Linked DNA regions of Homo sapiens. The protein of the gene in region 1 interacts with the protein of each later gene in a biochemical or structural test. Each region holds a gene or a part of one and is shown on either strand. Other genes may lie near its edges.

What was found.
Region 2: the proteins of KHDRBS1 (region 1) and HCK interact in a biophysical measurement, tested with the Homo sapiens proteins (2 studies listed by BioGRID and IntAct, with this or other methods).

The regions. Positions count from the first base shown.
Region 1 is NC_000001.11:32,030,843-32,037,882, reverse strand, and holds part of KHDRBS1 (KH domain-containing, RNA-binding, signal transduction-associated protein 1), read right to left. Parts: intron 6,360-7,040; coding exon 6,243-6,359; intron 4,696-6,242; coding exon 4,549-4,695; intron 974-4,548; coding exon 840-973; intron 49-839; coding exon 1-48. UniProt on the Homo sapiens protein: Recruited and tyrosine phosphorylated by several receptor systems, for example the T-cell, leptin and insulin receptors. Once phosphorylated, functions as an adapter protein in signal transduction cascades by binding to SH2 and SH3 domain-containing proteins.
Region 2 is NC_000020.11:32,097,242-32,102,396, reverse strand, and holds the end of HCK (tyrosine-protein kinase HCK), read right to left. Parts: intron 3,394-5,155; coding exon 3,262-3,393; intron 1,081-3,261; coding exon 878-1,080; 3' UTR 541-877; downstream 1-540. UniProt on the Homo sapiens protein: Non-receptor tyrosine-protein kinase found in hematopoietic cells that transmits signals from cell surface receptors and plays an important role in the regulation of innate immune responses, including neutrophil, monocyte, macrophage and mast cell functions, phagocytosis, cell survival and proliferation, cell adhesion and migration.

The sequences.
Region 1 (7,040 bases):
GGTGTACCACGTACCAAAGCCCCCCGAGGTGGTCCAACACCACGGCCCCTACAAAATGAAAGTTTATCTTAAATGGAGCTTTTTATAAACAGGCCACTTTTATGTTCTGATTTGTTTACAAATTCTGGAATTAGGCAGATTTTATGAAGCCTTAACTAGGCTATTATTAAAGCACAGAGGAATGTACAGGGTAAAGGACCCACACTGCAAGATCCCCCAGGTCCTATAGAGGACCAATTCATCACTGCACTGCCTTGGGTAGGTCTGGAGAGTCTGAATACTCTATAAAGGTCAGTCACAAAAGGTAGAATTTTAAAGTCAGACCATTAACAAATGCTAAGACTGTCCAAAATTAGAAGACCAAAAGTTTCAGCTAGACTGCAGCACTTGGCTATGGTCAAAGTGCCCAAGATCTAGAACTCTATTTTTTTTTTTTTTTGAAATGGAGTCTTGCTCTATCTCCCAGGCTGAAGTGCAGTGGCATGATCTCGGCTCACTGCAACTTCCGTCTCCTGGGTTCAAGCAATTCTCTTGCCCCAGCCTCCTGAGTAGTGTGGTGTATGCCACCACACCTGGATAATTTTTGTATTTTTAGTAGAGACAGGGTTTCACCATGTTGGCCAGGCTGGTCTCAAACTCCAAATGTCAGTTGATCCGCCTGCCTTAGCCTCCTAAAGTGCTGGGATTACAGGTGTGAGAGTATGGTTGTAGAATTCTGTTCTTTATGCAACATACAAATCCTGAGACCCTTCCTAAGCTAGACATAAGAGCACCACTAAAAGAGATGACACTAGTAGTCAAATTCACATCCTATTTCTGGGTGTCTCCATTATTTTTACCTGGGAACAGGTGGTGGAGGAGGTGCAGCTCCCCGGCCTCTCACTGGCACCCCACGTCCACGAGAGGGTTCAGGTACTCCATTCAAGTAGGACAGCTCTAGAAATTGCTCCTGACAGATATCATCCATCATATCCTGGGAACGAAAGATACAAGGAGTATTGTGTGGTATCTACACTTTCTACTGAGAAATCATCTGGTCCACGGGAGACTTGAATTCTAAGAAGAGCTCTTGAGAGCCCAGATGAGGTCTCAGGTCATTCCTTCTCTGAAGTCAAATGGCACCCTATCTGTCACCTCTTTGAGAAAAGTCTTGATGGTAGACCCCTCATTATTCATAATGTGGTCTCTGCCTAGCTCTCCGGATCACTTCCATTCTCTCTCTATATATAACCTACTCACAAGCCAGACTGAACAACTTGTAGTTCAGAGCCTGGCATACTCTTACATATCCATTCTTTGCAAATAGTTTCCTTTTCCTGGAATAATAAAAGCCACTACCATTAATGGAGCTGTATGCACTTGGCTCTATATAATAAGCTTTATATAGATTTTTCAGTTTAATCTTCAAAATGAGGGCCGGGTGCAGTGGCTCACGCCTGTAATCCCAGCACTTTGGGAGGCCGAGGCGGGCAGATCACGAGGTCAGGAGATCGAGACCACCCTGGCTAACACGGTGAAACGCTATCTCTACTAAAAATACAAAAAAATTAGCCGGGCGCGGCAGGCACCTGTAGTCCCAGCTACTCGGAAGGCTGAGGCAGGAGAATGGCGAGAACCCGGGAGGCGGAGCTTGCAGTGAGCCAAGATAGCGCCACTGCAGTCCGGCCTGGGCGAAAGAGAGAGACTCCATCTCAAAAAAAAAAAAAAAAAAAAAAAAAATCTTCAAAATGACCCTGAAATAAGTAGGCAGATCTCCACATTTTACAGTTAAGAAAACAGACTCAAGGAGTATACATCAACCAGCTTAAGAACACAGAGCTAATAAATGGCAGACTCTAGATGTGAATTCAGAATTACCTGTCTCAAAATCTAGGTGTTGGATCAACAGGCTTTTTTGTCCTTATACTGTCTTTTTTGTCCACCTGAGGGATTCTTAATTCATCCTTACAAGACTTGCCTAAATAAGTGTCTCTTGAAAAACTTTCTCTTGATGCCACCCCTACAACTCCTCTTTTCTCAAAGTACCACATAATTCCCTATACCCAAGCACTTACCACATAATTTTAGAATTGTCTGTCACTAAACTGTAAGCTCTTTAGGAGCCATTTTTGTAACTTTACACCCAAGCATAGTATCAGACATCTGACAGATACTTAAGAAATGTTTGGGACGAACAAGAAACCTGAAGCTCAGAAAAGTGAAATGATAACCTGTTCAGGAAGACACAGATAGACAGACATACATAGTCCAGTGCTCTTCCTACGGCACTGTGAAGCATTGCTGGTATAGTTAATTGTTCTAAGTGGAAAATGGAGGGCTCTGGTCACAGATGCAAAAATAGCCTCACTTTTCTTTCCTCCACAAGAGGGAAAAATCAAATGCCACTGGCAAATCTTTTCACACTTCCTATTGAGAGCCATTCAGTCTTAATACTTCATGCATTTTTATATATCCCAGGCGTATACAGCTTCAATAGATGATGCTAGTCTTTGATGCCCCCCTCAACTCTCTAGCTCCTCCTACCTTACACATTACCGCTGCTTGAGACTCACACCTTGGAGAATCAAGTAACCAATGCCAGACCATTGCTCAGACTCCTCCAACTGCCACATCAACACTGAGGAAACCCACATCTCCCCGGCAAGCATCTTTTTCAAAAGATTCACTTACAAGCAAGCCTCATAAACCTAACCCTTCTGAGGAATATGAGGGAGACTAACAATGAAGAGAGGAGATGGGCATTCCCTCTGCAGTCCTTTGGAAATTGAATGGCTTGGGTGATCAATAGAACACCCCAAAAAGAGTAAAAAGAATTTCCTTAAGATTATTAACCAGCTGTGTTTTTCTCTAGGATATGTTAAATGGTCTGTTTCATGTTGAACATTCTTTTTTTTTTTTTTTTGAGACAGAGCCTCACTCTGTCACCCAGGCCAGAGTGCAGTGGCGCAATCTCGGCTCACTGCAAGCTCCGCCTCCCGGGTTCATACCATTCTCCTGCCCCAGCCTCCCGATTAGCTGGGACTACAGGCGCCTGCCACCACGCCCAGCTAATTTTTTTTTTGAATTTTTAGTAGAGACGGGGTTTCACCATGTTAGCCAGGATGGCCTTGATCTCCTGACCTCGTGATCCACCCGCCTCGGCCTTCCAAAATGCTGGGATTACAGGTGTGAGCCACCGCGCCCTGCCTCATGTTGAACATTCTAATGAAGATGAGGTACTTGAAAGCAAAGCAGCTGCTAAGACATTTGAGACTGTTGGAATCCTTGGAGTTCAGCATTATGGGTACACAATGCCTAAAAACTTATTTATTTATTTTTTTTGGAGATGGAGTTTCACTCTTGTTGCCCAGGCTGGAGTCCAATGGTGCAATCTCAGCTTACCGCAACCTCTGCCTCCTGGGTTCAAGTGATTCTCCCGCCTCAGCCTCCCTAGTAGCTGGGATTACAGGCATGTGCCACCACGCCCGGCTAATTTTGTATTTTTAATAGACAGGGTTTCTCCATGTTGGTCAGGCTGGTCTCGAACTCCCGACCTCAGGTGATCTGCCCTCCTCGGCCTCCCAAATTGCTGGGATTACAGGCGTGAGCCACCGTGCCTGGCCCACACTGCCTATAAATTTTTGCCCTATCAATTTTCACATCATCTGACACCACATTTAGTTCTAATTCCCTCATTTAACATTCAAGAAAACCAAGGACTGTATCTTACCTCCTCCTAGTTTTCTGATGAACACATGACGCTTACTCAATTCTACTTAATAATATTCCAAATCCTTCATAAGTCTCCAGATTCATCCTTGTTATTAAATATTCAACAGTAGTATGTTAACTCTGACAACCACCAGGCCTTGCTAAAAGGCAAAAATAGTACCATTTCCTATTTATTCAAAGTAATATTCCAACCAAGTATTCAAAGGTGGTAACAAGCAAGATAGATAAACTGGCCTGTCCCATCTCTATCTAGTCCTCAGTAATAGTCTGAAAAAAGCTGCTCACCTATCTGTTAAACATCAATAGTCAACCTCTTCCAAACTAAACTCGTCCTCAGCAAACTCCTCCAGGAAAGAAATCCCTGAGTGTGCTCAGGTCAGAATTTAACCCAATAACACTAGATGCTATAAGCTTCTTGCTGCTAGTCTCTACTCTCTACAGCATGAACTTCTTGAGTGCAGAGACCCACCTTAGTCACTTTCCTAACACAATCTCCTTGTTCCACACTACTACCAAAATACTCAGCTAGGTGAAGACCCTGTTAAACCTTAGTTAACCAAATATCAGAATGCAGGCACACTGTGGACCCGAGATACTGACAAGATACCGGTACACAATGAAAACCACATTAGACAAGGAGGGATAGAGTGGCCTTGGAGCATAATGCTTTGAGAACTAGGTGCAAGTAACGAACTACCTAAGGAAAATGAACATAAGTGCAGAATTTGGTATACATACAGGTTATGCAGAGACCTTAGTTAAGAACCCCTACCTTCACAACAGTATAAGATCCCAGTTCTCTTTTGCTCAGAAGACACAGGATATGGATTTCCTTACCGGTACTAGAAATTTCTTGACTTCCTCCATGGCATGGGCCATAAGAGCATAAGCCTCACATGGGGGTCCAAAGACTTCAATGAAGACATGCAGATCCATATTCAAGTGGGCATATTTGGGGTCTCCACCTTTGCGCAGCTCTTCCTCCTATGGAAAAATGCAGAGAAATGTCACACCATGGACTAGGGAGAAAACACCACCTTTACCTCTAAGCCAAAGGAACAGCAAGAAATACCCCTAATGTCCATGAAAAACAGTAAAGTTAATTGGTATGAGCTGAGAAGAATTAAACAAAAAAAGAAAAAAGAAAAAAGAAAAACAGTAAAGTTTAAGAAAGTAAAACAAGCAGCCAGGCGCGGTGGCTCACGCCTATAATCCCAGGACTTTGGGAGACTGACGCGGGAGGATCACAAGGTCAGGAGTTCGAGACCAGTCTGACCAATGTGATGAAGCCCCGTCTCTACTAAAAATACAAAAATTAGCCGGGCATGGTGGCGCACGCCTGTAATCCCAGCTACTCAGGAGGCTGAGGCAGGAGAATTGCTTGAACCCGTGAGGTGGAGGTTGCAGTGAGCCACTGCACTCCAGCCTGGGCAATAGAGCAAGGCTCCCTCTCAAGAAAAAAAAAAAAAGTAAAACAAACTCTCAAGAACAGTAATTTGCACAGCCTGCTAAACTTGCACATGGTCTGCTGCTTACAGTTAATTGTTGTCTTAAATCCCTGAGATATCCATTGGAGCTCCTACTAAAAGCATAAAGAAGAAAAACTTAATTCTAGTCTATTCAGATAATAGCTGTTTGCCAAGCATTTGTTTTTAAATCACAGGTAGAGCTGTTAATCACCACGAGCTCTGCTTATCTGCTTATATGGTCTAGGGAGTGGTAGGGGAAGAAAGAAGTCAGGACAGAGGGAAGAAAAGCTCATGTAAATCTCATTAGTTAGAACACACTTCAGCCGTAACTATATGCATCTAGCAAGAAATGACCTGAGAAAACAAACATGTGTCCATTAGACTACATAAAAGGAGGGTTGAAAGAATTGGTTTTTGGACTGTAGCAGGAATATCTCATCAAATAAGGTGACCCCAGAAGGCTAAGACTATTCTGTTTTGGTGAGAAGTTTCTTGTCACAGAGTACACAGCGTACGCGGCTATGGCATGGGGAAAAAAAAGACGCATTAGATTCTGTAGTCAGGATTACTCATGGTTCCTTTTGGAATACATTCTTTTAGTGAGCCTCACATTCCAAACCGGCTATAAAACAAACCAACTAATCCTCAAACTCATCTGCTCTCACATTATTGTTCTCACTTTTCCAGGTTACAAAAAAGGGGGTGTGCTATTTGCATTTTAGCGTCTTTTGTCTGCTTTAGACTAAATTTTAGTATATTCAGTTCCCCTTTCAAGTTTTCACAGACAATCCTACCAATGCGCAACATGCTACTGCTGTTTCCATTACTACACAGTCAAAAAGTCCAAAAGAAAACTATCACCAGGGCACACCTAGGCTCTTCCAGGGTTGCCAAGCCAAGTAAATTAACTTGGTGTATAATCTCTTGCATCCAGTGCAAACTTAAAGGAGCCACATTCTGTACACATACAAAATTCTTGCCGCCTCTATAAGACATCCATACTGCATTCTGGGCAAGTAGAAGGCATTAGGATGTCCTCTTGCCTCACTAATGTGAGCTTACCTTGGCTTTGTCTCTCATTGAGCCCTTTCCCAATACAGAGATCTTTGCACCAGTCTCTTCCTGCAGTCTTTTGATTGTATTCCCTTGTGGTCCAAGAATCTTCCCCACAAAATTGAACTGACAGAAAATAGAGGATTTCTAAATATACATGCTACTATATAAAAACATTTCCACATAAATTACCTCACTTGATTTTAAACAACCCTGCAAAGGTAGAGTATTACCATTCCCATTTTACTGAAGGACACTGAAGCCATATTAATAAAGTGATTAGCTTAAGGTTATGAAACTAGAAAGTGGCAGTTCCTAGACCTGAATTTGGCTTTTCTGATGTATTCTGGTGCTCTTCCATAATACATTAAGACCTTTACTATTTTATTTTTTACTTTATTTTGAGACAGGCTCTCACTCTGTTGCCCAGGCCAAAGTGTAGTGACACAATCATGGCTCATCACAGCCTCAACTTTCTGGACTCAAGTGATCCTCCTGCCCCAGCCTCCAGAGTAGCTGGGTACAGGTGCACACCACAACACCAGGCTAATTTTTGTATTTTTTGTAGAGATGGGGTTTCGCTATGTTGCTCAGGCTGGTCTTGAACTCCTGGGCTCAAGCAATCTGCCTGCATCGGCCTCCCAAAGTGCTGGCATTACAGGCATGAGCCACTGTGCCTGGCCCAGCACTTAACATACATCAACATTTTTAAGGCAGTGACCTCAGAACAGAAGAGACTATATAGCACCCTTTGATAACACGCTGGATAAACTAAATGTAACTAAATGCTTTCCTAAAAAAAAAAAA
Region 2 (5,155 bases), on another chromosome or scaffold:
GGCCAGGCTGGTCTCGAACTCCTGATCTCAAGTGATCACCCACCTCAGTCTCCCAAAATGCTGGAACTATAGGCATGAGCCATTATGCCCGGCCAAGTAATGTTATGCAGTTTTGTTGTCTTAAGCTACCAGATATGTGGTAATTTGTTACAGGAGCAAGAGGAAACTAATATAGCCAGTAACTATTTTAGGGCAGTTAGAAAACCTCAAGCATTGAACCCCAATTTTCTTTCCTTTCCTTTCTTTCTTCTTCTTCATCTTTTTTTTTTTTTTTTAAACAGGGTCTCACTGTGTCGCTCAGGCTAGAGTGCAGTGGCACGATCATAGCTCACTGTGGCCTCGACCTCCTGGGCTCAAGCAATCCCCCGCTCCTCGGTCTCCCAAAGCACTGGTATTATAGGTGGGAGCCACAGCACCCAGTCTGAACCCCACTTGTCTTTGTATTTCTGGTCCCCGGGAGAGTCCTTCACCATTTCTGACTTGTCATACAGCAAGAAGGCAAATAGATATTCAGGAATTGGAAGGACAGGAAAACCAACGTTTTGGTAAAGACTTTGGCATTTATATCTTTTATTTAAATATTCATTTCACTATTTTGAAAGTTTCCCTTCCAAATCACAGCTGTAACTAAAATCCAACCATTCCAGGAAATAGAAATATCAACTTGGGGGCTTCCTGAGAATGTCAGATTGTGGATTGCAAGAGTCAAAAAGAGATTTTCCAGTCCAACCTACCCACTGGACAGATGAGGAAACTGTGGCTGAAGCGAGGGTGGGTGTCTGGGAGTAGGAAGGGGGTGTGGGCCCTGGCGGATGGTGCTGGAGCCACCTTGCAGCCACCACCTGGGCACCCCCTGGCCCTGCCCTGGTCCTCCCTATCATGGCTGCTGTTGGTACTGGCTCTCTGTGGCCGTGTAGAAGTCATCCAGCACACTCTGGATGTATTCGAAGGTCGGCCGCTCCTCCGGACGGTTTTTCCAGCAGCGCATCATGATGTTGTAGAGCTCCTCTGGGCAGTTCTCTGGGCGAGGCATCCGGTATCCACGCTCCAGAGCTCGGATCACTTCAGGGTTTGACATCCCTGAAAAGGAGCCGTGGAATTAGAAACGGAAGCAGTTGGGAAATGAGAGCCCAGGGGTGGCAGGCCCTGTGGCCTCCCCAGCAGGCATCACTCCCCACCTCACCTTGCAAGCTGAGCCCCTTCCACTGTGAAAGACAGACTTCCACCCTCAGCTTCACTTGCAGCTAGGACATGGGCCTGGGACCCAGTTTGGGCCAATGGGAGCTGATGGGGAGGTCTGCTGGGAAAGTGATGGAAAGGTTTTTCCTCCCGCTTAGAGGAGAGTCTTTGGAGAACGCACCCTTCATCTCTTCCTTTGAACACTGTGAGATACTTATGATACTTGGAGCTGACAACATGGAGAAGACCATCATAGAGACAGGAACCCAGAGTCCTGACAGCTGCTGAGTTGCTGAACTAACCAGTCACCAATGGAAGATTGGGAGTAATAGATTGCTTCTATTTCAGTTACTCTTTGTCTGTTATTTTGTTGCTTGCTGTGGAACACATCCTAATGGATTCAGCGTCTATTGTGTGTTGCCTGGTTTTGACTAGTGCACCCTCAAGACAAAACATTCAGGTGGCCAGATTCAATGTTAACCTATGGGTGGGACCATTTTTTTGTTCAGTTCAAGTTTCTATTAGCTATTCATAAGAATAGCCATTCAATGTCTGTGATCCCCAATTTTATATTATTAGTCTCAAACTCCAAACTCATGAACTCAAGTGCTTCCTTTACTTGGATGTCTCTATATTTAAGTCAACTCAAATTTAGCAGAGCTAAAACAGAGCTCTCCAATTTCTATCCCTAGACCATTACCCACCCTGTGGTGCAAAGCCAGGGTAATCATCCTTTATTCTCTCTCTCTCACCTCCTAAGTCAGCAAGTCAGATCTTTTCTCCTTTTGAAACGTAGCACCAGTTCATCAACGTATGCCAGTCACGAATGCCACCACCCTGTCCAGACCATCATCACCTCTGCCTGGGCCACTGCTGTGGCCTCCTCACTGGCTGCCACCCTGTTCCCTTTCCCTCCCATTCACTCTCCATGCTGAAAGCATCGCTTAAAAATGGAAATCACCAGCCCGGCAACATAGCAATACCTTGTCTCTCAAAAAATTTAAAGAATTAGCTGGGCATGGTGGTGTGTGTCTGTAATCCCAGCATTTTGGGAGGCCAAGGCTGGAGGATCGTTTGAGCCTGGAAGTTAGAGACCAGGCTGCACAACGTAGTGAGACCAAGTCTCTACAAAAAAATTAAAAAAATAAAAAATAGCCAGACATGGTGGCATGTGCCTATGGTCCCAGATACTCGGGAGGCTGAAGCGGGAGGATCATTTGAGCCTAGGAAGTCGAGGCTGCCATGAGCTATGATTACACCACTGCACTACAGCCTCAGTGACAGAGTGAGACCTTGTCTTAAAAAAAAAAAAAAAGGTGGAGAAAGGACAAGATCTGATTTAAAGTTTAGAATTATCCTTCTGGCTGCAAGTGGAGAATAGGCTGTAGGACGAGGAGGGAGAAAGCAGTAAGACTGATGAGGATGCCGCTGCACCATCTATGGGAGATGACGCTGGCCTGGATGCAGTGGAGACTGTGGGGTTCAAAGTGGTGAGACTTGGGATATGTTTTGGAGTCGAGTGGCCAAAACCCTGTGACTGCTCAGATGTCATAGGGGTGAGGCCAGGCACAGTGGCTCACGCCTGTAATCCCAGCACTTTGGGAGGCCGAGGCAGGCGCATCACCTAAGGTCAGCAGTTCGAGACCAGCCTGGCCAACATGGTGAAACCCCGTCTCTACTAAAAATACAAAAATTAGCCAGGCATGGTGGTGGATGCTTGTAATCCCAGTTACTCAGGAGGCTGAGGCAGGAGAATCGCTTGAACCTGGGAGGCGGAGGTTGCAGTGAGCCGAGATCACGTCACTGCACTCCAGCCTGGGTGACAGAGGGAGACTCCGTCTCAAAAAAAAAAAAAAAAAAAAAAAAAGTCATAGGAGTGAGAGAGAAGGAAGGGCCAAGGAAGCCCCCAGATTTCAGGCTTAAGACATTAGATGGATGGAGGTGCCTTTAACTAAGACAGGAAAGGTGAGGGAAGGTTGGGGGTGAGGATCAAGAACTCAGTTTGAATGGACATGTTGTTGAGATGAGCCCATTGCCAGACTGGGCCCTGGTAGCAGCCCTGAGCTGATGCCCCTTCCCTACCTGGGTAAGGGATCCGGCCGTAGGTGACGATCTCCATCAGCAGGATACCAAAGGACCAGACGTCTGACTTGATGGTGAAGGAGCCAAAGTTGATGGCTTCAGGAGCTGTCCACTTGATGGGGAACTTGGCCCCTGCAGGGTTGAACAGAGCAGAGTCGGGGAAGGCTGGGGAGTAGTGAGGGTTGGCTCTGCTAAGGTGGGGGAACAGGCAAGGGCAAGAGCTGCCAACATCTGCCCCTGCAGACCTGCAATTTCCCTGATACGTGGCCTCCCTGTGGAAGCAAGGGACATCCATCCTGAGGACAGATGGCTAAACAAGGAGGAGTGGGCTTAGGGGCCTGGGGTATGGTGTGGAAGTTCACTCTAGAATCCTCCTCGTTGATTCAGCTGATACCCCAGTTAACTGCAACTCCGAAGAGTGGAATCCCAGAGGTCACAGGTCTTTGGGGACAGAAGGACTTCAGGGGGCCTTGAGTCCAGGTTGCAGCTGATGCCTCAGTCCTCTCATCCTGGGCGATGGGAAAAGGGAGGATTCTGGCTCTCAGCCCATGAGGTTCCCACCAGTCACTATGTGTCTCTCCCTTTACCCGCCCTTCCTCCCACCTAGTCTGACATGGGTTTAGTTAGCCTTTTCATTTTTTTTTTCTTTTAGAGACAGAGTGCCCAGGCTGGAGCGCAGTGGCACAATCATAGTTCACTGAAGCCTCGAACTCCTGACCTCAAGCTATCCTCCTGCCTCAGCCTCTCAAGCCCCTGGGGTTACAGGTGTGCCCCATTATGCCAAGCTAATTAAAAAAATTTTTTTGGCCAGGTATGGTGGCTTGTGCCTGTAATCCCAGCACTTTGGGAGACCAAGGAGGAGGATCACCTGAGGTCAGGAATTCGAGACCAGCCTGGCCAACTCCATCTCTACTAAAAATACAAAATTAGCTGGGCATGGTGGCAGGTGCCTGTAGTTCCAGCTACAGGCTGAGACAGGAGAATCACTTGAACCCAGGGGATGGAGGTTGCAGTGAACCGAGATCACACCACTGCACTCCAGCCTGGATGATAGAGTCAGACTCCGTCTCAAAAATAAAATAAAATAAAATAAAATAAAATATAAAAAAATAGAAAAATTTGTAGAGACAGTGTTTTATTATGTTACCCAGCCTGTTCTCAAAACTCCTGGGCTCAAGTGATCCTCCCATCTTGGCCTCCTAAAGCACTGGGATTATAGGTGTGAGCCACCGCACCTGGCATAGTTATCCTTTTTTAAAAAGTGTTTAGTTTAATTATATCATGGTTGGTGAACATGGTCTATAGAATATATGTTCTTTGGAATTTGTTGAGACCTGCTTTATGACTGAGTACATGGTCAAGTTTTGAAAATGTTCTATGTGTGTGTTTGTGTGTGTGAGAGTGTGTGTGTGTGTATATGTTTTCTCCCTTCCTCCTTTGGATCTACAGACTTTTCTTGATTTCCTGCTTATCTTCTTCTGGTTTAGAAATTATACATTCTACTTTTATTCCTTTAGTCATTACATTTATTTATTTATTTATTTATTTATGTTTTGAGACAGGGTCTCGCTCTGTTTGCCCAGGCTGGAGTGCAGTGGTGTCATCTCAGCTCACTGCAAGTTCCGCCTCCCGGCTTTCACGCCATTCTCCTGCCTCAGTCTCCCAAGTAGCTGGGACTACAGGTGCCCGCCACCACGCCTGGCTAATTTTTTGTATTTTTAGTAGAGATGGGGTTTCACCGTGTTAGCCAGGATGGTCTCGATCTCCTGACCTCGTGATCCTCCCACCTCAGCCTCCCAAAGTGCTGGAATTACAGGCATGAGCCAACGTGCCCGGCCCTATTTATTTACTTTTTTGAGACAAAGTCTTGCTCTGTTACACAGGCTGGAGTGCA